Homo sapiens: one gene and its partners. Each later gene encodes a partner of the first gene's protein in a complex. Each region holds a gene or a part of one and is shown in the gene's direction. Other genes may lie near its edges. The genes, in order: CNOT2, CNOT9, CNOT11 and CNOT8.

Region 1 (7,429 bases):
GACGGGGTTTCACCATGTTGGCCAGGCTGGTCTCAAACTCCTGGCCTCAGGTGATCCACCCGCCTTGGCCTCCCAAAGTGCTGGGATTACAGGCATGAGCCACTGCACCCAGCCTGCTTATGACACATTTCTAAAAGAATCGCTGGGTCAAATGCACATGGCTCAAGGCTTTTGATACATATTGCCAAACTGCACTCTAGAAAAGTGCTGCCAACATACACTCTCAGCAATATAAGCAGCCCTGTTTCTCTGAATCCTTGCCAGTATTATCAAGAAATAACCACTTGTTAAAATAGTGCCTGAAGACTAAATTAATGTTTAACATGTTTTGTCACTCATAAGTTGGGCTTACTATTAAACTTTTAACTGTTATAGTATTACCATTCAAAGCTTACACATATTTAAGATGAAGAAACTGAGGTCTAGTAAATTATAATTCAGACCCCTTTTAGTGTGAATTTTAGCCCTGGATATACTGCAGTGCAGTCTTTTTTTTTTTAACTTGTACTAGCCTTACAGATTTCCCAGAAAAAGGTAGACATCTTCTTTATTAAGTTGGAGGTCAGGAATATCCTATTAGTTTAGTACTGTTTTTCCTGTTTCCTAGATTGGATTTTACAAATTTTGTGTTAAGGATATCTGTTGACATTTACTCATTTATTATTTAAAAAGTCTAGCTAATCTTGGATAAGAATTTTGTTGATTCATTCACTCACTAATTTAACAGCATTTATCTAATGCCTACCATGTGTGAAGGATAAAGTAGTGGAAAAAAACAGGTGTAGTTTATATTTTTGTAGGGTGAAGGGAGGTAGAAAATAAACAGTGAATAAACAAGATAATGATAAATTATAAATGCTATTAAGAAAATAGAGGGGCACGTGATTGACAGAGAATAAATGGGAACGTGAGCTATTTTAGATACGGTGGCCAGGGAAGGCCTGTCAGAGATATTTGGGTTAACCTGAAGGAAGAGAATGAGTCAGCCATATCCAAGACAGAAGACCACATCCCAGGCAGAAAAAAAATAAATAAATAAAAAATAAAAAGCAAGTGCAAAGGCCCTGAGACAGAGTATCAGGTAAGATTAAATTCAGTTGAGAACAAGAGACTCCAAAATAGTGGCTTTAATAATATAGACATTTACGACTGCAGGGCTAGCATGGTGCTCTGATCCATAAAGTTCTCACAGACCCTGGTTTCCACCAGTTTAGTTTTGCCATCCCTAGAATGAGAGAACTTGCATGAGGCACAAATTGGCAGCTACAGTTCTAAGCCATCACATCTATATTCCACGGTACAGGATAAAGGAAAAGCCGCATTGAAGGTGTGCACCAACTATCTTTTAAGGATGGTTTTACAAGTGTGCCACATGATATACTGCTTACATCCCATCAGCCAGCACTATTACATGGCTACAAGGAAGGCTGCAAAATATAGTCTTTGTTCTGGGTAGCCATGTATCCATGTCTATTACTATGAAAAAAATGGAGGAATTTTTGGGGACAACTAACAGACTCTGCTACAGACTAGAAAAAGCACAGCCCACGACAGAAAGGAGGCAGTAAGAAGGGTGAGAACAACTTCCTGTGCTGCTTCCTGGGAAGATGGAGAAGTGGGCAGGAGCCAGATTATGCAGTCTTGAAGGCTATGGTAAGGAATTCCGATTTCATTCTGTGTGCATAAGGAAGCTATTGGAGGGTTTTAAACAAGGGAGTGACATAACCTAATAACATTTTTTAAGTGATTGCTTTGGTTGGTATATAGAGAATGGTTTAAATGGGAAAATATTCATGAGGGTACAGATAGAAAGTGATAGCAACTAGTGTGGTTATTGCTGTGGTCCAGCAACAGATGATGGTGGCTCCCAAGGGTTGTACCAGTGGAAGTGATAAGTAGCTAAATTCAGAATGTATTTGTCAGGAAGAACTGATGGTACTGTCTGATGAGTTGTATGAGTGTGAAGAATCAGAAAATTCCAAGTTTTATGCCTGAGCAAATAAGTGAATGGTGGTACTATTTATGAAAATCAGGAATTCTAAAGGAGCAGCAGATTTAGGGAATGAACAAAGGGGATTCAAATGTTGTTTCAGACACATTAGAGAAGCCTGTCCTTTTTATCCCTTGCCATGGCAAAATTTTCAATACCATCCATATTTTTCTAAAAATGGGTGGCCTCCTTCTTCTACAAGTTATACACAAACTCATTCTTCCCTTAATAGGGTATTTTTTTTCCCTCAACGTCTGTAATTTTTAAATAAAGTGTACAGAGAATTTAACATAATACATATTTTGGAAATATACAAAACATGTGCCTATTAGTAAGGACTACTTTTCAGGTAAAAGTAAGAAAATCTAGTAAGATAGTTAAAAGAAACCAAACTACCAAATGGGCAAACTTAATCAACATTACCAATAAAGATGAACTTTTTGATGCAACAGGACAATTTAAAAAATATACCATCTATTGGTAAGAACTCTTACTATAAGAATTCTTACTATACAAGCCTTTAACAAATGCTAGCTCATTAAATACCTAGAGTACCCTCTAAGGTAGGTATTAAAAATTTTTTAACAAATTTATAATAGATTTGGCACAAATAATAGGACAATTAAAGGCTTGTTCTTCAACCCGGCTTAAAGTGAATTCATCCTAAACAAATAGGTGTTCAGTGAGAGTCAAAGTAAGTAGTATCAAATATTGAAAGTAATAGTATCAGTGTATTTTCTCCTAACACTCCTAACCCACACATTTATTATGAAAATGTTTGTTGTTCTATCTCTTCCAGTAAAATACTCAAGGTAATAAAACTCTCATATCAGACTTACACCCTCTGGAAGTCATTCCATAGAGGTATATTCAATCTTTTAACACACCATCTTATGGTTGAAGATGTTAACATGAGAAGGAGGAGAAAGCAGGAAGAGGAAGGGACTATTTGCAGAAGACGGGGAGAAAGAAAGGAAAGACACTAGTATGTGTTGTTCCTCCTCGAATTTTCCTGAAGTGAAAAAAAAACAGTGAAGTAGAGTGTTTGATGAAATGAATAACCAAGCAAAACATTTTCTACCTACACCAGTACCACTAGGAGTTGAAATAAATTCACACAATGTCTGCTGATATGTCAAAACACCTTACCTTCAAAAACATGACAGTTACCTTTTATTTTATAGTATGCTTGTGTTTCTTCCTATTTCTTGCTTTTGACCTTCAATGATAAATGTAAACTGGATTACAGTGATTCTTTTGTAAGTAAAAGGTGACTTTTTAAAAGAAACAACCAATGGAAATAGAAATTTTATTTACTTCAAATTAACTGTACTTTACTCAAATAGAAAAGAATAATTTTCACATTATGAAGCTACACAATTCCAAAATACACATGCTGAGGCTCTTTTTAAGTCCGAATTGTCTAGTAATTACAAAAAAGTGAAGAGTTTACAGATATACAAGGAAATAAAGGCGAATTATTGCAAAGAAAACAAGTTTAATTTCACTTTGAATGACAACGATTTTTCTGGAAAGCAGATACTTCACTCCTTTAAGTTTCCACCCAAGCCACAATAATTTCAAACGGTCTTGCGGATGACCCAGCTGGTCACTCTTGTTTATGTGGGGACTGGAGGTAATGAGAGCCAAAAAAAGTGCTATAAACCTAATTTGGCTAGAGCAAGTTCACACGACACGACCGTGCTTTAAAAACTTGCTCTCCATTATGTACTTCCTTCCATCAGGTTGGGGAAAAAAAAATGGTGGGGATGGTGAGTAAACACACCAGTGGTTTCATCAGAGGGGAACTCACTACTCAGGAGGTGACGGTGACGTGGTGCCGGTCCCTGAAGTACGCGCACAAGCTCCGGAGGTTGCGGGAGCTGAGGGAGGAAACAGGGACACGATCAGATTCGCTCCAGGTGGCGGGAGTGAGGAGGGGAGGAGTGACGAGGCGGACGTGCGGGGGCGGGGGTGTCCAACACAAACACAAACACAAACACGAACACGAACACGCTCAGCGTCCCCGGGGAGGGCGGACTGAAGCCACCTCACCATTCATCGCCCCTGGACCCCGCAGTCCCCCTCGGACTCAGGGCCAGAGCCTTCTGCGAAGCAACCTAGCCCCAGGGAAACGGTAGCGGCCGCAGAAGCCCCGCTCTCTGTAACGGCCGCGGAGGAGCAGCAAGCCTCCCTGTGAGTCGGTGGGAGACAAGACGGAGCGGCGGTAAGGGCGGTAGGGAAGTGAAGCGCCTCTCTCCACCTTGTTAGAAGCGCGCTGAAAGCGGCCTGCCTACCCACCCCATCGCTGCCGTTTTGCAGTCGTCGCTCCCACCTTCCGCTGCCGCCTGGAGGGAAGCCGGAGCGACGGGGGTCACGGCGGCGGTCAGAGGGTAAAGGTCTTGCTCCCAGCAGCCTCCGCGGTGGATACGTCGCCATCTTGGATCCGCGGGACAAGAAAATTCATGCGGTGAGTTTTTGGTAAATTTTCGGAAGTCTGGCAGCGGGGCGCGCGGCGGGGGCGGCAGATTCGGGGCCCCCGCAAGGCGGGGGAATGCCCCGGGGCCGGTCCGGTCGCGCCCAGGGTCCGCCGGTAGCGTCCCGGCCCACCGCTTCCCGTTGCTTTTGTCTCGGCTCCAATCGAGAGACGGAGAGCGGAGCGGGCGGGGAGGGGGGTGGCGGCGGTGGAGGGAGGGAGGGGGTGTGTATGGGGGTGGTGGTGGACCGGACGTAAAGCGTCGCTGTACTCGGGCCGCTGCAGCAGCAGCAGCTCCAGATCCTAGGCCCGGTCCCATCCGCGAGTGGTGGGGCTTCCCCAGACTCCACTCCCCTAGGCTCCCGCCAGCGCGGAGGAGCCGCTGCCGCCGCGCTGCTTCCTGGGGGAGAAGAGAAGGCGGCAGCGGCCGTGGCCGTGGCCGACGAGCTCGAGCCCGCTTTAGACGGCTCTGCCGCCTTCCCGGCAGCTGGTGCTGTCTGTGGCTTCTTACCTTCTCTCAATACACGTATATCATCTGCCAGTTATGTGTATTTCTGTTAGTGTGTTTGCAAGTGTCAGATGGGAGACACTGGACTGGCTAACGGGTGTCAGGATCCTGCAGGCCCTGGGATACCGAAGGCTGTGCATGGTGGAGGGAGAAGGAATGCAACTGCGATGCCGCCTCTGCCACCGCACCAGGAAGGTGAAGCTTCCGTAGTGTCGTAGACTGAGTCCGGATGATCCTGGGGCGGCGGAGGAACCACAGACGCTTCTGTCTGTGAAGTTGCAAGTCCTGGGTTTCTACTTCCGCAGGGGCCTCTCCACCTTTTGCTGTCGTAGGTCTCGCTTAAAAGTTTAACAGAAGAAAAGAGTAGGGTTAAAAGAGGCCTTTGTAGTTCTTCATTGAAGCACTGTTGTCTGTCCGGGTGAAAGCTGATAACTCTTGGTAACTGTGGTCCTTAGCAAAAGAGAATTGGAGTTTTCTTTTATACAAAGTATTTCCAAGGTTTTAGACCTTATATTTATTCCAGGCCTGTAGGTACGGTATTACTACCACAAAAGTCTTACATTAAGGGTACCACCCTCTCAGAGGGAACCTAAACATCAACTTCCTTCGAATCCTTGGAGACATCTTCACTTTTCAACATCCGGAAGACTGAGTGCAACATATTTTGTTTCATTTTCATAAAAGTCTTGGTCAGAGAATCCCACTCCTTTTAAAATCGTTTGGGCAATTCCTCATAATTAAGTACACTGCTTTGAACCCTTAGTTCTTGGCGAAATGGTAAAAAGTACTCAGTTAAAATCAGTTCACGAGGGAGGCCAACTTGAATTTAAGGTTCAAAGTTGAACATATTTAGTGTCATGCTTAATATTAGGAATTTTTAGAGCTCGGAATCATAAGTGTGACTGTTGATTTCCCTTTTGAAGCAATATAAATGGAAAGAATAAAGTATGGGGTGAGGGATGAGATAGAAATTTTAAAGTATCCATTTACATGCAAGGTTGATGTTGAGTTTGGGAATGCTTGGCATAATTGACAACAGTTCTTTCCAAACGTCAATGAATAAATCTCACAATTTTGTAAGGTAACTATTGCAGATTGAAAGGGTTAAGAATCATAGTTGGCTGAAATGGTTAAGTGTCTATATTCACATCCCAGTTCATTGAAATGTTTTATAATGGACCAAGATAATTAGTAAGCTCTGTATGTTGAATTTGTTTAGTTTGTAGTTCTATTATAATGTTAAATCTAAAGAAAAAAATACAAAATACACTTAAAGACAAAACATGTTCCACTCTACTCACTTATTTCTTGACTTTGTAAGATCCTTACTGTAAAAAAGGTACTTTTCTCTCATATTTTCTGAGAGCTTGAATTGTAATAATTTTTGTGAATACTTTGTATTTTAGAGAGGAAGTGAGAAACTGCTGAAGTTTTTTTTGCATCTTGATTAGTGCTTTATCAATACAAATAAGTTAATGTAAACATTTGTTGGCAGGAATCTTTTTCTAAGTATACAATGTAGAGATATCTGTAACCTAATCTGATCTCAGGGAATGAGAATTGCCTGTTTAACCAAGCAACAAATACAGCCTATACAATTTTTCAATTTCTATAATACTTTAATTTACATGGTGGAAAAATGAGGGCAAAATGCTTGTGTATGAGTGATTTATATCCCCAAGTACCTGCTCTTGAAGATAAAACTCAGATTGTGGCTTATCTTCTGATGCTGGGCAAAAAACAAAAACAAAAAAATTCAGAATGATACAACTTCCCATATACCTCCCTACAAGAACTAATTACCTTTGTTTTTGCTTTATAACTTTGGATGTTGCACTTTTTGATTTTTCAGAGATGCTTTACAGTTATTGTAATCTGAAAATTATTTGTTCAAAAGTAAATAAAATTTTCAGGTGTATGAATAGATTTTATTAGAAGTGATTCTAACCCAGTTCTCATTTGTATTCCTTTAGTAGATACTGGTGTTAAAAGTACCTGTATTTTGAAAGACCATTACAGAATTTTTTACAACCTGTATAAGTTATAGTTTTATCTTTTCTAGTGACAGACTTACTTCATAAGATTTTCTGATAATATGAATAAAATGTATGCTTCACATGTATATATGAAATAATGAGTAAGCATTAATAGACCAATGAAAAGAACTTAGCTTACAATTTATTTTCTTGCTCTTTAAAAGCAGTGGTAAATAATAGCTTTTTTTTGTTGTTAAAATTTGTAACTGTAGAAAGTTCATTCTGTTGGGATCACATATTTGAAGGCAAACTAACAATGCCATGTGCTTGCTTGAATAGGCATTTGAGGACAGGTTATTTTCCTGAGATTTCAGGAAAATATACCACCAAACATTTATGATGTTATTTGTTACCTGGATCTGTAGTGGATTTTGTAACACAAAGAGGCAGAATATCCAGGGTACCAGGTAGGGCAGTTT
Region 2 (7,034 bases), on another chromosome or scaffold:
AACCAAGGTCACAAACATATTTGATGACTATAGAGAATTATAAAATATTCAAATTTGGGGGGAATATTGTGATTCTTTAGCATAATAATGAAAGCATGCCCTATTAAGTATGTATTTCCTACATGAGTAAGTAATGAATGGTTCTCAAAGGGATGTAGTTAGAGAATATACTGAAGAATCATTAAGAGGGAGAGCTTTTCCAAATTACAGGTTTTCTGCTCAGTTGAGGGGGGATGTCAGAATCACTGGGGAGGGACCAGTATTGGGAAGGCATAATTTTTTTTCCTCTCAAAAACTATTATATGCATATGGTTTTTTAAAAAAAGTTTATGCAAAAGGTTTTAGTGTAAACAATGAAAAGTAAGTCTCCCTGTAAATCCCCAACCTTAGAGGTAACTACAGTTAACAGTTCTTTATGTGTCCTTCTAGAAATGTTATATGTAAATGTGTAAGAATGTATATGTATTTTTTATTTTTATATGTGTGTATATTAATGGAAACATTTTATATGCTCTTCTGTAACCCTTTTATTGTTTTTACTTAGTATCAATATACAGTATATAGAGAGCTGCTTCTTTTTTTAAAGGACTACATAGTATCACATTATAAAGCTGCACCAATATTTAACCAGTCTCTTAGTGAGAGATACTTGTTTGTTTTCTGCATTTTTGTTTTTGAGACGGAGTCTCACACTGTCACCCAGGCTGGAGTGCAGTGGCGCGATCTCGGCTCACTGCAACCTCCGCCTCCTGGGTTCACACCATTCTCCTGCCTCAGCCTCCAGAGTAGCTGGGACTACAGGCGCCTGCCACCACGCCCAGCTAATTTTTTGTATTTTTAGTAGAGACACCAGTTTCACCGTGTTAGCCAGGATGGTCTCAATCTCCTGACTTCATGATCCACCTGCCTTGGCCTCCCAAAGTGCTGGGATTACAGGCATGAGCCACCACGCCTGGCCCAGTTTTCTGCATTTATTTATTTATTTATTTATTTGTTTGTTTGTTTATTGAGACAGAGTCTCACTCTGTCGCCCAAGCTGGAGTGCAATGGTGCAATCTCAGCTCACTATAACTTCCACCTCCCATGCTCAAGCGATTCTAGTGCCTCAGCCTCCTGAGTAGCTGGGACTACAGGCATGCACCACCACACCTGGCTTTTTTTTTTTTTTTTTGCTCTGTCGCCCAGGCTGGAGTGCAGTGGCGCTATCTCGGGTCACTGCAACCTCCACCTCCCAAGTTCAAGCAATTCTCCTGTCTCAGCCTCCTGAGTAGCTGGGATTACAGGCGCCCATCACCACACCCAGCTAAATTTTGTATTTTTAGTAGAGACGGGGTTTCGCCATGTTGGCCAGGCTGGTCTCAAACTCCTGACCTCAAGTGACCCACCCAACATGGCCTCCCACAGCGCTGGGATTACAGGGGTGTGCCACCGCGCCCGGCCACTTTTCTGCTTTTAAAACAGTGCAACAGTAAACATCCTGGTATGTCTTTAGCACAGCCCAATTATACCTACAGGATAAATTCCTAAACATGGAATTATCAAAGGGTATGTGTGCATTTTAGATTTTCATCAGTAACTACCAAAGAGATTGAATAGTTGACATCAAATGTATGTATTTAGAAACGCTCCCCTGGTATTCATGAAAAATATATTTCCTCTAAAACTCTGTTGCAGGGTAAGACTTGGTTTGACTCTAATAAACTGATATTTACTTTCTTGTCTTCATCTGAAGCCTGTGCCTACTACACTGGCACAAGTGGATAGAGAAAAGATCTATCAGTGGATCAATGAGCTGTCCAGTCCTGAGACTAGGGAAAATGCTTTGCTGGAGCTAAGTAAGAAGCGAGAATCTGTTCCTGACCTTGCACCCATGCTGTGGCATTCATTTGGTACTATTGCAGCACTTTTACAGGTGGGTTCATGTCCATGATTGGCAGTTCAGTTCTTTTCATTACACTTGTATATTTCTTTACCTTTGCCCAAATGATTTGAAGACTTTAGGAGGATGATTCTTTAAAAAACTGCATTTGTAAGAATCTGTTTTAGAAAGGTCTGAGGTATTTGTTAAAATGCAGATTCTTGGATCCTTACCCAAGAGATTCAATTTAGTCAGTCTGAGGTGGGCCCTATAATCTATATTTTAATAAGCACTTTCACCTCCCCCAGGTGATTGTGATGCAAGTGATCTAAGAACTACGCTTTGACGAACACCGCTTTAGGAGTACTGTAAGATAAATCTACATGACAGGGGGAGGAAGGTGGAAAGTAGAGTATAAGGACCACAAGGTACAATATATTCTATGGAAAAGAAATGGGTTTTTGGGTTTTTTTGTTTGTTTTTCTTTTTTTTTTTTTTTTGAGACGGAATCTCGCTCTGTCGCCCAGACTAGAGTGCAATGGTGCAATCCCGGCTCACTGCAACCTCTGCCTCCCGGGTTGAAGTGGTTCTCCTGCCTCAGCCTCCTGAGTAGCTGGGATTATAGGCCTGCATCACCATGCCTGGCTTTTTTTTTTTTAATTTTTAGTAGATACGGAGTTTCACCATGTTGGTCAGGCTGATCTTGAACTCCTGACCTCGTGATCCACCCACCTTGGCCTCCCAAAATGTTGAGATTACAGGCATGAGCCACCATGCCTGGCCTGGAAAGGAAATGTTGAAGGTATAACAGCTGTAGTATTAAAGGTGGGTACACTTGTACATTAAAGAATAGATAACTGAAGTTCAGTTCAAACCAGAATGGTCACTGGTGGCTAATTAACTGATATGGTACAATAACAATACCAAAATACCTAGGTAGTGGCATGATCATCCATTAAAGTATTGCCCCAAATTCCTAACAATTAGATTAACTTTTCAACTCTTAAGTAAATTCACATTCCATCTCTATTGCATTTAGCCAAGAAACTGATCTTTGTTATGGGAACGTTTTTCTATGTAAAAGTTTTACAAATAATGTAAATGGAAAATTGTAGCCAGGTGCAGTGGGTCATGCTTGTAATCCCAGCAGTTTGGCAGACTGAGTTAGGAGGATTGCTTGAGCCCAGGAGTTTGAGACCAACCTGGGCAACATGGCGAAACACCATTTCTACAAAAAATACAAAAATTAGCCAGGCTTGGTGGTACACTCCTGTAATCCCAGCTACTTGGGAAGCTGAAGTAGGAGGATCAATTGAGCCCAGGAGGTGGAGGCTGCAGTGAGCCATGATCATGCCACTGCACTCTGCCTGGATGACAGAGTGAGACCCTGTCTCAAAAAAAAAGAAAAAAAATGTAAATGGAATTGTATTGAGTAAATCATTACTTTTTGACAGATAGTGCATATATTCACTGCTGTTTATACATATCCCCACCCATTGATTCATGTCCTTACCATGTTACTACCTAACCAAATTCAAACTTCTTTATGAGTCACCGTGGTTGACTTAACACTTTCTGGCCAGTGATCTCATCACTGTAACTTAAAGCAGGATGCTAGCAAAATTATAAAAATTTGAGTATCCCTCAACTGATAGCCTCAGTAGCTGGAGAATATAAGAGGAAGTGTAGATGACTACATTTGCCTCCACAGAAATCTTCCTAGGCCGGGCGCAGTGGCTCACGCCTGAAATCCCAGCACTTTGGGAGGCCGAGACGGGCAGATCACGAGGTCAGCAGATCGAGACCATCCTGGCTAACACGGTGAAACCCCATCTCTACTAAAAATACAAAAAATTAGCTGGGCGTGGTGGCAGGCGCCTGTAGTCCCAGCTACTCTGGAGGCTGAGGCAGGAGAATGGTGTGAACCTGGGAGGCAGAGCTTGCAGTGAGTCAAGATCGTGCCACTGCACTCCAGCCCGGGTAACAGAGCGAGACTCCGTCTCAAAAAAAAAAATCTTCCTAGAGACAAATGTAGAAATGTGAGTCTCAAAAAAAAAAATCTTCCTAGAGACAAATGTAGAAATGTCTTAGCTAGTCTCAGCCAAGTAAGTTTGTGATGAAAGGATATGAGCATTATTTCTGCTCCCTCTTTGATGACTGAGTTCTTAAAAGATGCACAGAATTAAGAGCTATTTTATTTGCCTTTTTTTTTTTTTGCTTTATTACCATGGGAATTAATTTTTAGTTATTCCTTATTCATCTGATGCTGATTTCCATTTTTTAGGAAATTGTAAATATTTATCCATCTATCAACCCACCCACCTTGACAGCACACCAGTCTAACAGAGTTTGCAATGCTCTGGCATTACTGCAATGTGTAGCATCACATCCAGAAACCAGGTAAATGCTTTGGGTGAGTCACTTGGGGGAGATATACATTGAATATGGTCCTAAACGTTCTCTGAATAATAAAAGGAAGGGCATGGAGGAGAGAGAGAGAGAACGTTTGTGTGTGTGTGTGTGTGTGTGTGTGTGTGTGTGTGTGTGTCTCTCTCTCTCTCTCTCTCTCTCTCTCTCTCTCTCTCTCTCTCTCTCTCTCTCCTGGTCTTCCGGATTCTTATTTACTTTTACCCAATGAACTTTAAAGAAACAGTGTTCACATTACAGGAAAGGTATCAGGCATACAGCTACTTCTCACTCCCTGACCTGTTATTGACACTATGTCATCTGTGAGGCATAGTGCATGGCATATAAGAGGAGTTTAGTAATTATTTTTCCAGCACTTTTCCCACACTGAACCCAGATTTGACTTCAGAATCCTTCTTAACATAGCATTCTGGGCGGCCTCTATAATAGACGAGAATTGGCATGTAAGTTAAAATATTTTTGCCACCTGTCATATCTAAAAAATTAAGAAAAGGGAAATCCTGTTCAGGAATCTACTTTGTGGGCTTTTATGGCCCCAAAGGCACTTAATAGTCATCTTATTAAAGCCTTTCCTCTTTGTCAAGTTTCCTTATGAAATATGTATGCTAGGTTGGCACTGACCTTACACAGCTTTAGAGAAATTACTAAGAAAATTACTTTTAAGCACTTAACAAAAACACAAGAGTACTTTGAGTGTTAAAAATCTTGGGCGTTGGCTCTTCTACAAGGTGTAACTATAAATAATATAAAATAATAGACTGATTTCCTTATTAGTTGCCTGACTAAACTGTTTTCAGAATGGTTTGTGTATCTGAAATGCCCTAACAAAAAAAGAAGAATGTGCTTATTAAAGTATAGCAGGTAAGCCTGATAATGGCTGCTTTGTTTTGTTGTATTGGTTTGTAAGGTTTATTCGACTGCACCTGTGAATACTATTATTCAGTCATAGGTGAGGGAGATAATCTAGGACAATCTCTTGGACACTTAATAGCATTTTGTGGTCTATTTTTTAAAATCCACAATTGGATATTTTAAGTTAATCAGTTTGTAAGGTACTTTTTGCTGATTACAGGGAAAATCATGTGTTTTCTTAACCACTGTGATCTGGACTAGGGTTTTCAGCTTTGGCACCATTACCATTTGGGGCTGGATGAATCTTTGTGATGGAAAGGAGAGGGCAGGAGAGGACTGTCCTGTGCATTGTAGGATGTTTAATGGCATCTCTGGCCTCTTCCCACTGGATGCCAATAGTGCTTCATAATCCTGAGTTGTGACAATCAAAGATGTCTCCAGACATTGCCACATGTCCTCCAGGGGGCAAAATTTACCCCATTTGAGAACCATTGGTTGAGACTAATGACCAGTAACATTGTTTTCCTAAGGATTCCTTGCTCTGACAATGTTAAGGCCTTACAGAATTAACCACCTAGAAATTTGAAAGTTCAGGATCCTTAGAAATCAACCCTGGGCTGTGAATGTAATTATTGTTTTCTTCCAGGTCAGCGTTTCTCGCAGCACACATCCCACTTTTTTTGTACCCCTTTTTGCACACTGTCAGCAAAACACGTCCCTTTGAGTATCTCCGGCTCACCAGCCTTGGAGTTATTGGTAAGTTATTAGAATTGTTTTGCAAGCCTGAAATACTCACAGTAGTAGTCTAAGTTGGGTGTTTTGTCTTGCCGGTTATGATTTTTGTACACCAGTCATTCATTTTTGTCTTTGAGGTTGTCTCATTCACTAATCAATAAGTATCAGGAACATGATGACTCCTATCAAGCACTCTTCTAAGTGTTGTTAATAAGACTTTGAGATCCAACATTTGGGATTAAATTCAGCATATATGTGGAAACATTTGCTGGAATTGTAGGGAGAGTAAAGCATAAGAACTTGATTCAATATATAAAGAGTATTATTAAAGGAATAAGAGTTTAAATTTGGGACTTCTCCTCTTCCCTTCTCTCTTCTCTTCTCTTCTTTTCTTTTCTTTTCTTTCTGATAGGGTCTTGCTGTGTTACCCAGGCTGGAATTGAACTCCTAGGCTCAAGTGATCCTCCTGCCTCAGCCTCCCAAGTAATAGGGACCATGGGCACAGGCACACACCACTGTCTTTTTTTGTTTGTTTGTCTTACTTCTAATACCGGAATGCTTCGTATATCTGAAATGCCCTAAGAATATGCATGTCAAATACACTAAGCATTCTGAAAACCTGTAATTCTCCCATAACTCCAGGAATATGAATCTGTCAGTTCACCCAGTTAAATTTTTTCATCTACTTTTTTTTTAGTCTCTACTAAAAAAATAATGCAAAAATCAGCCGGGCGTGGTGGCATGTGCCTGTAGTCCCAGCTGCTGGGGAGGCTGAGGCAGGAGAATCGCTTGAACCTGGGAGGTGGAGATGCAGTGATTGCAGTGAGCCAAGATCACGCCACTGCACTCCAGCCTGGGCGGCAGAGGGAGACTCAAAAAAAAAAAATTAAATTTCCATGTACTAGCAATGAACAATAGGAAATTTATTTTTTATTTTATTTTTTTTTTTTTTTTTTGAGACAAGGTCTTGCTCTGTTGCCCACTCTTGAGTGCAGTGGCATGATCATGGCTCACTGCACCCTCAAACTCCTGGGATCACACAAATCCACCCACCTCAGCCTTGAGAAGCTGGAACCATAGGCACATGCCACCACACCTGGCTACATTTTTTTATTTTTTTGTAGACACAAGGTCTCACTTTTTGTTGCCCAGGCTTGTCTCA
Region 3 (7,000 bases), on another chromosome or scaffold:
CCAGCACTTTGGGAGGCCAAGGCAGGCAGATCACTTGAGGCCAGGAGTTGGAAGCCAGCCTGGCCAACATGACGAAACCCCATCTCTACCAAAAAATACAAAAATTAGCCCGGCATGATGGTGCACTCCTGTAATCCCAGCTACTCAGGAGTCTGAGGCAGGAGAATTGCTTGAACCTGGGAGGCGGAGGCTGTAGTGAGCTGAGATCGCGCCACTGCACTCCAGCCTGAGCAACAGAGTGAGACTGCCTCAAAAAAAAAAAAAATAGTGTAGAAGTTGAGGGATTTTGTGCAACCGGGGTGTAGGGTACATGGATGGGAGAGAAGGTCAAGAAGTGAGATTAGGAAGGTGTGGTGGGACCAGATTTTGAAGGGTCTTGTAATGGTGTAGAAATCTGGGTTTAATTCTGTGTACACAGGTTAAGTAATGTGATCAGATTTGTACTCTAGAGATATAACTAAATGGTAAGAGGAAGTATGGACTATGGGTGGTGGGTGAGCAGGGGTCAAAACTGGGAGCTGGGGAAGTCAGTAGAGGGGGCAGGAGTAGTCCCAGCAAGAGAGGCGTGGGGACTACATCTGAGGGAATGCAGCCTGGTGACATTTCTGCAGTGGGAGAGATGAGGCTTCATGAGCAATTAAACATGGGACAAAAGGGAAGGAACATTCAGCCTTGTGGGAATTTGTAGCTGCATTGTGTGTTGAATCAGGTAGTGTATTTGGATAGCTGCTGGTTGCTCTTCTATTTATTCAACTTCTACACAGTGGAAACAGAGAAGAAAGAAAAGCATTTCCGAGCACTATAGTGTTGTCTGTTTTTGTTTGCATATATAAGCTTTAGCCTTTGCAGGAATTGAGGCACTTTAGAAAATGCAGTTATTGGGCCAGGCGTGGTGGCTCACGCCTGTAATCCCAGCACTTTGGGAGGCCGAGGTGGGTGGATCTCGAGGTCAGGAGATCAAGACCATCCTGGCTAACACGGTGAAACCCTGTCTTTACTAAAAAGTACAAAAAATTACCTGGGCGTGGTGGCGGGCGCCTGTAGTCCCAGCTACTCGGGAGCCAGAGGCAGGAGAATGGCGTGAACCCAGGAGGCAGAGCTTGCAGTGAGCCGAGATTGCACCACTGCACTCCAGCCTGGGCGACAGAGCGAGATTCCATCTCAAAAAAAAAAAGAAAAGAAAATGAAGTTACTAATGTGAGAGTTAAAGAGGAAAGAAACACCAGGCGGGGCACGGTGACTCATGCCTGTAATCCCAGCACTTTGGGAGGCTGAGGCGAGTGGATCACCTGAGGTCAGGAGTTCAAGACCAGCCTGGCCAACATGGTGAAACCCCGACTCGACTAAAAATACAAACATTAGCTGGGCATGGTGGCAGGTGCCTGTAATCCCAGCTACTTGGGAGGCTGAGGCAGGAGAATCTCTTGAACCCGGGAGGTGGAGGTTGCAGTGAGCCAAGATCATGCCATCACACTGCAGCCTGGGAGACAAGAGTGAGACTTCATCTCAAAAAAAAAAAAAAAGCCACAAAACGCAGCTTGGCAGTCAAAGACAGATTTTCTTTAGTTAGAACCTGAGAAGCACTCCTGGCCGATGTTTTAACTAAAGAAAACCTGTCTTTGACTGCCAGGCTGCGTTTTGTGTTTCTTTCCTCTTTCTTTAACTCTTACAGTTAACAAGTACAAAAACCTTAAGTTTCATTTGTAGGGCCACAGATCATAGAATTTCAAATGACATATTACATAGTTTGTAAATGTATATATTTGGTTGACTGAAACTTAATCATAATTTAGTTCTTAAAACTATGTGGCTTGAAGTGGCAAGTAGCAAGTACTGATTTTACCAGATTCAAGTTGATTTTTAAAAGTAACCATTGGAGAAATCGTTATACATTTTTGTTTGCAGGATTTTTACCTCCTATAACTCCACCAGAAAAGTTTTTTCTTTCCCAGCTGATGCTGGCACCCCCACGGGAACTCTTCAAAAAGACGCCTCGCCAGATTGCACTGATGGACGTTGGAAACATGGGCCAGTCTGTGGACATTAGTGGGCTTCAGTTAGCCTTGGCCGGTAAGGAGGAATCAGTGTTTTGGGCATTTCTGTGTGGTAATATTAGGCCTCTCTTGTTGAGGACTCTACTAAAATGATGTTTTTTGTAACTGCTAAAAGGTTAGTATCATCCATTTTAAAAAGTAGTTTTAGTACTGGATCTTAAATGGAAGTCTTGGCTGGGCACGGTGGCTCACACCTGTAATCCCAGCACTTTGGGAGGCTGAGGTGGGCAGATCATTTGAGGTCAGGAGTTTGAGACTAGCCTGGCCAGCATGGTGAAACCCTGTCTCTACTAAATATACAAAAAATTAGCCAGACATGGTGGTGCAGCACGCCTGTAATCCCAGCTACTCAGGAGGCTGAGACAGGAGAATAGCTTGAACCCGGGAGGTGGAGGTTGCAGTGAGCTGAGAACAAACCACTGCACTCCAGCCTGGGCTACAGTGAGACTCCATCTCAATAAATAAATAAATAAATAAATAAATAAATAAATAAATAAATGGAACTCTTTAAATTTTTGGATGCTAATAGCATGTAAATTCATTTGGAGTTTTCACTTGAATTGATTGCTTTTTCTGTTTTAGAAGAAAGCTGGATAAAATTTAGTGGGTTTTTTTTTAAGTTTTGATTGGAAGACTTACTATTTGTTAAAATGTCAATACTACCCAAAACAATCAACAGATTTGGTGCAATTCCTGTCAAAATTCCAACAGTGTTTTTTGCAGAAATAGAAAAATCCGGCCAGTCACAGTGGCTCACACCTGTAATTGGGAGGCTGAGGCACAAGAATCACTTGAACCTGGGAGCTGGAGGTTGCAGTGAGCTGAGATTGTGCAACTGCACTTCAGCCTGGGTGACAGGGCGAGAGTCTGTCTCAAAAAAAAAAAAAAAAAGAAAAATCCATCTTTAAACCAAAGAAAGGCTGGCATAGTAGCTCATGCCTGTAATCTTTGGGAGAGGCCAAAGTGGGAGGATCGTTTGAGGGCAGGAGTTCAAGACTAGCCTGGGCAACATAAGGAAACTTTGTCTCTGCAAATAATTAAAAACTTAGCCGGGCGTGGTGGTGCATGCCTGTGGTCTCAATTACTTGGGAGGCTTAAGTGGGAGAATCACTTGAGCCTGGGAGATCGAGGCTGCAGTGAGCTGTGATTGCGCCACTGCACTCCAGCCTGCACAATATCGTGAGACCTGTCTCGGGATGCTGAATAGCCAAAACCCAACGTTCTCTTGGCATCCTTGTTGAAAATCATTTGCCCATATATGCAAGGGTTTATTTCTGGGCTTTCTATTCCATTCTATTTGTCTATATGTCTGTCTTTCTGCCAGTACCACACTGTTTTGATTACTGTAGCTTTGTACTAAGTTTTGAAATCGGGAGGTATGAGACTTTCAACTTTGTTCTCGTTCAGGATTGTTCTGGCACATTCTGTGTTAAACCTGTAAGCAAATGAATGAGTGCTCTTGAAGTAAACAGTGTGTCCTGACAGAAAATAATAGGAGAAGGAGAACTGGTGGTCAGAGAGAGGCTCTCTGAGTTCTGAAGGAGTAGAGGAGGCACTTTGGGCTTGCCTGCTGTCAGCATTCATTTTCTCACTTGAGAGCAACTCAACAGGGAAATTGTAATATGTAGCTGGGTTTGTGAACCCTTGACTTTGTAATTAAGTAAGCTGAAGTATTTTGACAATGCCCCATCCTTCTTAGACTTCATAAACCTGTGACATTTGGCTTCTGATATAAGGTGACATGTTGCAGTAAACAGCTTTTCCTTTGCAACATTGTGAACCTTTAAACTATTGGGTATTAACAATATAACAATGGGGCCAGGCACAATGGCGCATACCTATAATCCCAGCAGTTTGGGAGGCCAAGGCATGAGAATCACTTGAGCCCAGGAGTTTAAAACCAGCCTGGGCAACATAGGGAGACCCTGTCTCTACAAAAGTAATTAAAAAAATAAAAATTACCTGGGTATGGTGGTGTGTGCACTTGTGGTCCCGGCTACCCAGGAGGCTGACATAAGAGGATCACTTGATCCTGAGAGGTCAACGCTACAATAAGCCATGATTGTACTACTGCACTCCAGCCTGGGCAACAGAGTGAGACCCTGTTACAAAAGCAGAGACAAGAACAATGTAACAATGGTTATGTTCTGAAACCAAAAGAAATCTTTTTAAGACTTTTTAAGGTTGTACTAATAAGTACAAAAGTACTAGCCACTAGTGCCAGATATAATTTAATAGAAATAAAATGATTACTTTTATTTATTCCTGACAAACACCAAAGATACTTTGAAAACTGGATACAGAAGTGATGTATTCTGATGGTTCTAGCTTAGTATTTATTATAATATTTATTTATAGTATTTAAATAGTAATTTTTTTTATCATAATAAAGTGAGAATCACATCTGACCTTCCTTTTAACTTGGGATGCCTTGAGTAGCCGTAAGAAAGTTGTGAAGTATATCACGTGGAGGAAGGATCACATGTCTAGAGTAAGGGCTGAGAAGCCTGGCCGAGTGGCTAAGCTTGCTGCCTGCCGTCCTCTACCCAGATTGCAGATGTCCGGATCCATTCCTCTTCACAAGTGTAAAGAAAAAGCAAGCATGCCTCCACTCTGGAGCTAGCCACCCAGATCTTCTCTCTGGAGGTCTAAAATTCAGATGTCTTCCAGTGGCATCCGTGGACCAAAGGTGTATTTTTGGATGATGCAGTTTGTGTTTTCTTAACTTTAAAAAAACAAGTAGACAAGTTAAACATAAGTGACTACAAGGGGTGAAGTTTTACCCTAACAATGAGTTTTCATTTCAGAGGTTTTGTTTTTCTTTATGATTTATTCCTGACAAACACCTACCACTTACTAGTTTACCAAACAGCTGGCCAATTTATCTTTTTTTTTTTTTCACATTTTGGTTGATAATATGTTATCTAACTTTTTGTACTTCAACAATCTGAGATTTTTTTAAATGGCATTACAGGATAATTTTAGTGAGCATTTCTCCTAGTAAGTGGATGAGAAAAGATGCTATATGTCTAAGGCATCTTTTCATATGTCTCTGGCCATTTTTCCATTGGGTTGATGGTCTTTTATTGATTTGTATAGTTCTTTAATCAGGAATTTAGCCCCGTGTTTTTAAAATTACACAATCTGAAGTGAAACATGCATTCACTTTTTAAAGGAATTATAATTAAGTGAACCAGGAGCAACCTGCCATCCAAGTTAAGAAAGAGAATATTTTCAGGGCCTACAGGCTCCCTGTTTCTCCCAGTGGCTGCCTCATCACTAACCTGATTTTTGTGATAATCATCCTCAATTTGCTTCCCTCCTGTGCCTGCCTATAGTTTCACTTTGCATGCCCTTGAACTTTATACATGTGGAATTGTACTGCATTTATTCTCTTGTGCCTTCCTTCTGTTGGGGGTTGACAGATGAGTCCATGCTGATGGCGTGTAACTGCAGTGGCTGCCCTTCATTGCTGCTGTGGTACCTTCACACTGTGGAGTACCAAGTTCTGTGTCCATTCTGTTGTTGATGGACATAATACTGCTGTGAACATTCTTGCACATTATTCTGGGGCGCGTGTGAAAGTGTGTCTCCTAGATGGAAAGAAATGCACATGTAAACATTATAAAGAAACATCAAATTATTTTCCAAAGTTGCTTTGCCATTTTTCACTCCTGTAGCACCATGCAAGTTACCTTACATCCTCTTCAGCATTTGGTAATGTCAAGTTTATACATTTTTGCCAATCTGGTGGGTATGTTATAGTATCTTGTGTTTTAACTGGATTTTCCCTAGTTCCTAATGGGATTAAATATCTTTTCAGATTTTTTTGGCCATTCAAGCTTTTTAAACAAAATCCTTATTAAAGTTACTAGTCCATTTTTTCCTGTTGGTTTCTTTCTTTCTTTTTTTTTTTTTTTTTTTTGAGATGGAGTCTCGCTCTGTCGCCCAGGCTGGAGTGCAGTGGCGCGATCTTGGCTCACTGCAAGCTCCGCCTCCCGGGTTCATGCCATTCTCCTGCCTCAGCCTCTCGAGTAGCTGGGACTACAGGCACCTGCCACCATGCCCGGCTAATTTTTTGTATTTTTTTAGTAGAGACAGGGTTTCACCGTGTTAGCCAGGATGGTCTCGATCTCCTGACCTCGTGATCTGCCTGCCTCGGCCTCCCAAAGTGCTGGAATTACAGGCATGAGCCACTGCGCCTGGTGGGTTCTTTCTTTTTTTAAAACATTGATTTAAAAATATATGTACAGTAAGTCATCACTTAACATCACTGACGGGTTGTTGGAAACTGCAGATTTAAGTGAAGTGATGTACAGCAGGTCCTTGAATAACACTGTTTCATCAACATTGTTTTATTATAACATTGATAAAAATAGTTGTTTTGTTACACGTCACTTCACTTAGTGGCAGATTCCAAGAACCTTTCAACAACGCTAAGTGAGGACCTGCTATACGTACAGACATACACACATTTTCTCTCTCTCTCTGAATCTGGCCCTTTGTTTTTCTCTGTTACAGATAGCTTGCCTCAGTTGGTAGCTTGTCTTTTCTCTCTCCTCATGATGTCCATAATTTTAAAATGTCTCCTATTTCCAGAACGCCAATCTGAATTGCCAACGCAAAGCAAAGCGAGCTTCCCCAGTATTCTCAGTGACCCAGACCCGGATTCTTCTAATTCTGGATTTGACAGCTCAGTTGCCTCTCAGATCACAGAAGCTTTAGTCAGCGGACCAAAGCCACCTATTGAAAGTAGGTACATATAAATTAATTTATACTCTTTGTTTTATTCTGTCAGCAGGATCCTCTAGGACTTTTCAGTTTTTGAGACATCATTTTATTTTTATTATGACTTAAATTGTAATTTAGTGTGAATCTTTCTAGTGTAGTGAGTGTCTAGAACATAGTAGAGATGTTCAGTGACAGTTAATTTCTTCTTTAAGAAA
Region 4 (7,034 bases), on another chromosome or scaffold:
TTTAAATATATACATTAGAGCCCACTATTGTGTTGTGGATCCATGCAGTGGGCTTGCCTTAGAAGTAAGTGCCTTTATGATAAGCTCTTTTTTGTTTGTTTGTTTGTTTTTGAGACGGAGTCTCGCTCTGTCGCCCAGGCTGGAGTGCGGTGGCGCGATCTTGGCTCACTGCAACCTCTGCCTCCTGGGTTCAAGCGATTCTGCTGCCTCAGCCTCCCGAGTAGCTGGGACTGCAGGCGCGTGCCACCACAGCCAGCCAACGTTTTGTATTTTTAGTAGAGACGGAGTTTCACCGTGTTAGCCAGGATGGTCTCTATCTCCTGACCTTGTGATCCGCCCGCCTCGGCCTTCCAAAGTGCTGAGATTATAGGCGTGAGCCACCATGCCCGGCTTTTTTGTATTTTTATAACCAGGCCTTGTACGTTGTTTGCCATAATAATAACAGCATTCGTCAGAGACCCAATCATGTTGAATTTTTTTCTCACAGAATACTTTCCCCTCCCTGATTTTTCTCCTGGAAAATACACCATGAATCATTCTGTTTCTGGTTGAATGATTTACACCAGCCATCTTTAGTCCTACTGTTGAATTGCTGCATAGTTTCTTTTTAATTTATGTGTTTAAAAGTAAATACTGGCCGGTGGATCACAAGGTCAGGGGTTCAAGACTAGCCTGACCAATATGGTGAAACCCCATCTCTACTAAAATACAAAAAATAGCTGGGCGTGGTGGCGTGCACCTATAGTCCCAGCTACTTGGGTGGCTGAGGCAGGAGAATTGCTTGCACCCAGGAGGCAAAGGTTGCAGTGAGCCAAGAGTGCACCACTGCACTCTAGCCTGGGCGACAGAGCAAGACTCCATCTCAAAAAAAAAAAAGTAAATACTAACTAAAATTCTGATTTGCATTGTGGTTTTTAGGGTTCAGATTAGCAAGTGGGATTGTTTTTTAGCACTTAAATCCCTCACTTCATGCTCTGTTTGCACAAATCTAAAGAGGCACTGGTATGTCTAAAGAGGCACTGGTATTGTTTATTACCTCTAGTTGTATTTGACTTTGGGATTGTAGAGAAAAATAATTTCCTTTTGTGGGATGGGGGAAGAATCCCATGCCAGTATTCATCATATGGGTACAAAGGCTTGAGTGTGAGAGTTTAGGTCCACATTCTTTCAGGTTTTCAGAGATCTCAGGTACATTGAAAATGGCTAAGATGATTCCTGTAGGACTGTTTCCATGATTTGGTCTCTGTGCAAAGTGATGTGAAAGTCATGGATAAGGGCATATTTGTGGTAACGGAATTATTTTGGTCTAGTCTACAGAGAGCTGAAAAACTAGGGTAGTGGTTTCACTTCTGTGGCAGAGGACTGCTGGGCAGAAGTTTCAATAACTTCAGTTTCTTCAAGAAAGAACTGTGTGTGTGTGCGTGTGTGCATGTGTGTGTGTGTGTTGACAAAGTTTCTCCATCATATAAAATGGAGAATAAATATAATCTTAATGTTTTAAACTAATGAAGTGATTGTAAAATATTATTTTGATGTCTTTGTTGTGTTGACATCTTATGTGTGTGTAAACTTACATGATTTTAAAATGTTTTACAATCTAGATCAGACCAAACATTGTCTGGCTTGCACTGTAAAACTAGTTAGCTGAAGACGACTTCTCAGGTTTCTTCAGGATGCCTGCAGCACTTGTGGAGAATAGCCAGGTTATCTGTGAAGTGTGGGCCAGTAATCTAGAAGAAGAGATGAGGAAGATCCGAGAAATCGTGCTCAGTTACAGTTATATTGCCATGGTAAGGAGCTCTACTCTGACTCACCTTCTTTGTCACTTTTAAAGTTGGGGTCTTGCTCTGTTGCCCAGGCTGGAGTGCGGTGGCTATTCACAGATGCAATCATAGCTCACTGCAGCCTTGAACTCCTGGGCTCAAGCAGTCCTCCCACCTCACCTTTCCAGGTTGCTGGGACTGCAGGCTCATACCACTATGCCCAGCTTGACTCACCTTCTTATATGGATGGGTTTAGGGAATGTTTAATTTGAGATTTTGAAAAGAATGGGTATGTTCCACTAAAGCCATTGTAAATTAAACCGGATGGAAGGTTGTGTTGCTTCATGAAATATCAAGGTAGCCAGTGTCTCTGAGAAGGATGTAACCTCTAGTATCTTAGATTTTTTATAACATTATTCTGTTTGAAAGTCTTTAAAGCAGAAGTTACGTCATCCCCTAGGGCCCAGCTGTTCCACAGATATGTTGGATTTGACTATACGATGTTAAGAATTTTAAAAATTTATTGCCAGCATTTAAAAGTCAATAGAACTCACTTGAATTCCAGATTTCTGGCATCTCTGAAAAAAAAAAATAGGAAGATCTGGCAATATCTGTTATCCACTCCTGCCTGACACTGGCTGGAGAGAGAGATGAGTATTGTGGTAATATTAAGGGCCTCCTGTAGACGGGCATGTGCTCTCTGTTTTACTCCAGTCCCGATTACTTGTACTATTTTCATACCTAGCTGACTTTACTCCTTTACATTAGCTGCTTGGAGTTTGTGACTCCTGCTTTAGAAATTATAGAGTTGGCCGGGCGCGGTGGCTCACGCCTGTAATCCCAGCACTTTGGGAGGCCGAGACGGGCGGATCACGAGGTCAGGAGATTGAGACCATCCTGGCTAACACGGTGAAACCCTGCCTCTACTAAAAATACAAAAAATTAGCCGGGCATGGTGGTGGGCGCCTGTAGTCCCAGCTACTCGGGAGGCTGAGGCAGAGAATGCGTGAACCCGGGAGGCAGAGCTTGCAGTGAGCCGAGATCGTGCCACTGCACTCCAGCTTGGGGGACAGAGCGAGACTCCGTCCCAAAAAAAAAAAAGAAATTACAGAGTTAAGTCTTTAGCTTGGTATTCAGAGCTCCTTCCAGTCTTTTCACTCAAGCTAAGCCTGTCTCTTTATATTTTTTTCTGAATGGCTGTTTCACTTCCCTGTATTTGTATTTTTATTCATATATTGTTCTCTACCTAGAATGTTCTTAATTGACTGCATATCTACCTGTAGTTACTCAACTCTTTCTATTGACATTCTGCTTATTTAGGATCAAGTTGTTGTGCAAAGCTTCATGATTTTAGTGCTTCTTCAGTAGATACCAACAAGATCAGTATTTTAAGATAGGATTTTGGCTGGGTGTGTTGGCTGATGCCTGTAATCTGTGCACTTTGGGAGGCCGAGGCAGGTGGATCACTTGAGACCAGCCTGGGCAACATGGTGAAACCCCATCTCTACAAAAAAATACAATAATTAACTGGGTGTGGTGGTGTGCACCTGTAGTTCCAGCTACTTAGGGAGGCTGAGGTGGGAGGATTGATTGCACCTGTGAGGTTGAGGCTGTAGTGAGCTGTGATTGTGCCACTGCCCTCCAGCCTGGGTGACAGAGACAGACCAACCCTATCTCAAAAAAACACAAAAAGAATTTTGTGCCCAAGTTTGGGGCTTGCCACATAACTTTTATAAATGGAGGTAAAATTTTATTTATGAATTACCAATTCAGCATCCACTGTTTTGTGAAACCTTGTGATGAGAGACTTTTTCCTTTTCCAGGACACAGAATTTCCAGGTGTTGTGGTGCGACCAATTGGTGAATTTCGTAGTTCCATAGATTACCAATATCAGCTTCTGCGGTGCAATGTTGACCTTTTAAAAATTATCCAGCTGGGCCTTACATTCACAAATGAGAAGGGAGAGTATCCTTCTGGAATCAATACTTGGCAGTTCAATTTCAAATTTAACCTTACGTAAGTGATTTCTAAATAAATGCGTTAATTTTAAGTTTTGTTTTCACTGAATCCAGGTGGGTGTTGGATAGAGCGGTCAAGCAGAGGACGGAACAGGGAATCTCAGCAAGTGAAGTCCTGCTTAAAGAACTGCAGCAGCTCAACAATGAAAAGATAAACAACCCAACTAAAAATGTGCAAAAGATAGACTTTTCTTGAAAGATAATGTACAGATGGCCAGTAAGCACATGAAAAGATGCTCAACATCATTAGTCATGAGGGAAATGCAAATTAAACCCACATTGGGATACCACTTCACACCCACTAGAATGGCTATAGTCAAAAAGACATAATAAGTGTTGTTGAGGGTGTGGAGAAAATTGGAACCCTCATACATTGCTGCTGGGAATATAGAATTTTGGGGGAAATTCTGGAAAATAGTTTTGCAGTTCCTGAAAAGGTTAAACATAGAGTTGCCATATGACCTAGCAATTCCACTCCTAGGCAGTGGAAAATTCCATGGTATGTATATACCGCATTTTGTTTATTCATCTGTTGATAGACACGTGGGTTTTTTCTACCTCTTGACTGTTGTGAATATTGCTGCTATGAACATGGGTGTGCAAATATTTCTTCAAGGTCTTGCCTTCAGTTCTTTTGGATGTATGCCCAGGAATTTTCAAAGAAAATTTCGGGGAGACTGTCATTTTGCTGATTGCATAAAATGATGTTAGTGTACTTCCTATTGTATCCTGCTTTGTTTAACTGGGCATCGGGAGTGTTTCATGATTTAGGAGTAATCTTTTTTTCCTGTCAATACAGGGTCTCGCTTTGTCACCCAGGCTAGAGTGCAGTGGTGCTAACATGGCTTACTGCAGCCTCAATCTCCCAGGCTTATCTGATCCTCCCACGTCAGCCCCCTAAGTAGCTGGGACTACAGGTGCACGCCACCATGCCCAGCTGATTTTTTGTAGAAAGTGATCAGCCCGCTTTGGCCTCCCAGAGTGTTGGGATTACAGGTGGAGCCATTGTTCCTGGAAGGAGTAATTTTTTTTATTGTTGTTCGTATGTTTTGGAAATTTCCTTGAGGTTCAAGTAATTTTGGGAGATCATCTGGATCTTTCCTTTAACTGCATTTTTTAGTTTATTGTCAAAGCCTGTAGTTTGTACCATAAAAATAATATAATACAAGGAAGAAAAATGAGTTATTTCACTGAGTGGTTTGGGTATGTTTGGGTTTAAAATAATGTTTACTTGCAGCCGGGCGTGGTGGCTCACGCCTGTAACTCCAGCACTCTGGGAGGCCGAGGTGGGTGGATCACTGGATCACTTGAGGCCAGGAGTTCAAGACCAGCCTGGCCAATGTGGTGAAACCCCATCTCTACTAAAAATAAAAAAATTAGCTGGGTATGCTGGCAGGTGCCTGTAATCCCAGCTACTCAGGAGGCTGAGGTGGGAGGATCACTTGAACCTGTGAGGTGGAGGCTGCAGTGAGTCGAGATTGTGCCACTGCACTCCAGCCTAGGTGACAGAATGAGACTCTGCCTCAAGAAAAAGAAAAAAAATAATGTTTACTTGGGATTGAAGCCTAGTTATAATAAGCAAAACAAAAAAAAAATGTTTATTTAAGTGGAAAAGAAACTTGTGATTCATCATTGGTTTTAATTTAGTGGAAAAAAATCAAGATTGCAGTGGTTTTCTTATTGTCTAACCCAAGTTTATATGAAAAGCAAGTGAAAGTCTAGTGGAACAGGAGTCGTTTAGCTTATTTCCTTACTTTTGTATTACATGGTATTATAAATAATTCCTGTGGTTGAATTAATGGATATATCTTTAGAGTGGAATATTATGACAGTGTTACAATGGATGAGTATTGATTTGTAAAGATGGTCTGTGATGTAGAGATGTAAGGGATGTAGGTGTGTATGTGTAGATAGAGAAAATAGTCTGGAAAGATCTGTAAACAAAGGTATTGGATCTGTGGGGTAGCATTATACGACCATTAATTTTTTCAGTTTTTTTCATGACAGAGTCTTTTAGATAATCATCTGTATACCAAGTAATAACATGTTACAAGTTATTTAATTCTGTCATCTAGTAATTTTGATTAAGAGAAACTACAAGTAGCTCAAACAATTACACTAGTATTCATTGTTTGAACCATTAGCAGGAATAGACTACTTTAAGGCTGGCTGTTGCTTCACGTGGGTTACAAATAACTATTTGCTACTTTTTCATAGATAAAGCCCCTGACCTTCATGGAAGCATTAGGGAAAAAGAAAACTTAATTTCTTTCTTTCTTCAAAGAACTTTTTTCCTTTCACTAGATATAAGAAAGAAAAAGTCAACAATAATACATGTGTTGCTTGAGCTAAAAGACATAGGAGAACAGACAACACATACCCATTACATTTCTAGGAAATACGAGGTAAAGAGAAAAAAAATTTTTAATGTCTTTTTTAAAATATAAAAGCTTTAGTTAAGTTGTAAGTCTGTACAAAGAAGCTAGATTTGCTACTCTCCAAGAAGTGAAGGGACCTGCTATGTAATATACAGAAATCATTTACTTCCTTTCCTTTTCTTTTTTTTTGAAACAGAGTCTTGCTCTGTCACCCAGGCTGGAGTGCAGTGGCACAATCTCAGCTCACTGCAACGTCTGCCTCCCGGGTTTAAGCAGTTCTCCTGCCTCAGCCTCCCGAGTAGCTGGGATTACAGGCGCCCACCACCATGCCTGGATAATTTTTGTATTTTTCTAGTAGAGACGGGGTTTCACCATGTTGGCCAGGCTGGTCTCGAACTCCTGACCTTGTGATCCGCCCGCCTTGGCCTCCCAGAGTGCTGGGATTACAGGCATGAGCCACCATGCCCCACCTATTTACTGCCTTTTCTTTTTCTTTTCTTTTCTTTTTTTTTTTTTTTTTTGAGGTAATGTCTTGCTTTGTCACCCAGGCAGGAGTGCAGTGGTGCAATCTCGGCTCACTGCAACCTCCACCTCCCAGGTTCAAGCAATTCTCTGCCTCAGCCTCCTAAGTAGCTGGGATTACAGGTGCCCACCATGCCTGGCTAACTTTTGTATTTTTAGTAAAGACGGGGTTTCACCATCTTGGCCAGGCTTGTCTTTAACTCCTGACCCTCGTGATCCACCCACTCTGGTCTCCCAAAGTGCTGGGATTACATACAGTTGTGAGCCACCGCACCCGACCTATTTACTTCATAAGAATATAACTTGAGCTTTGCCAAAGCTTTATGTTCCCTGAGGGCATCTAAAACGCCAG

What was found.
Region 2: CNOT2 (region 1) and CNOT9 share a complex: the UniProt entries of both Homo sapiens proteins name them as parts of the CCR4-NOT complex.
Region 3: CNOT2 (region 1) and CNOT11 share a complex: the UniProt entries of both Homo sapiens proteins name them as parts of the CCR4-NOT complex.
Region 4: CNOT2 (region 1) and CNOT8 share a complex: the UniProt entries of both Homo sapiens proteins name them as parts of the CCR4-NOT complex.

Annotation. Positions count from the first base shown.
Region 1 is NC_000012.12:70,239,021-70,246,449, forward strand, and holds the start of CNOT2 (CCR4-NOT transcription complex subunit 2), read left to right. Parts: upstream 1-4,412; 5' UTR 4,413-4,460; intron 4,461-4,720; exon of another isoform or gene 4,721-5,302; intron 5,303-7,429. UniProt on the Homo sapiens protein: Component of the CCR4-NOT complex which is one of the major cellular mRNA deadenylases and is linked to various cellular processes including bulk mRNA degradation, miRNA-mediated repression, translational repression during translational initiation and general transcription regulation.
Region 2 is NC_000002.12:218,578,829-218,585,862, forward strand, and holds part of CNOT9 (CCR4-NOT transcription complex subunit 9), read left to right. Parts: intron 1-1,732; coding exon 1,733-1,912; intron 1,913-2,181; exon of another isoform or gene 2,182-2,241; coding exon of another isoform or gene 2,242-2,286; intron 2,287-4,142; coding exon 4,143-4,258; intron 4,259-5,783; coding exon 5,784-5,893; intron 5,894-7,034. UniProt on the Homo sapiens protein: Component of the CCR4-NOT complex which is one of the major cellular mRNA deadenylases and is linked to various cellular processes including bulk mRNA degradation, miRNA-mediated repression, translational repression during translational initiation and general transcription regulation.
Region 3 is NC_000002.12:101,255,886-101,262,885, forward strand, and holds part of CNOT11 (CCR4-NOT transcription complex subunit 11), read left to right. Parts: intron 1-1,905; coding exon 1,906-2,070; intron 2,071-2,929; exon of another isoform or gene 2,930-4,156; intron 4,157-4,463; exon of another isoform or gene 4,464-5,987; intron 5,988-6,653; coding exon 6,654-6,806; intron 6,807-7,000. UniProt on the Homo sapiens protein: Component of the CCR4-NOT complex which is one of the major cellular mRNA deadenylases and is linked to various cellular processes including bulk mRNA degradation, miRNA-mediated repression, translational repression during translational initiation and general transcription regulation.
Region 4 is NC_000005.10:154,861,606-154,868,639, forward strand, and holds part of CNOT8 (CCR4-NOT transcription complex subunit 8), read left to right. Parts: exon of another isoform or gene 1-64; intron 65-1,601; 5' UTR 1,602-1,673; coding exon 1,674-1,790; intron 1,791-3,586; coding exon 3,587-3,780; intron 3,781-6,086; coding exon of another isoform or gene 6,087-6,129; exon of another isoform or gene 6,130-6,187; intron 6,188-7,034. UniProt on the Homo sapiens protein: Has 3'-5' poly(A) exoribonuclease activity for synthetic poly(A) RNA substrate. Its function seems to be partially redundant with that of CNOT7.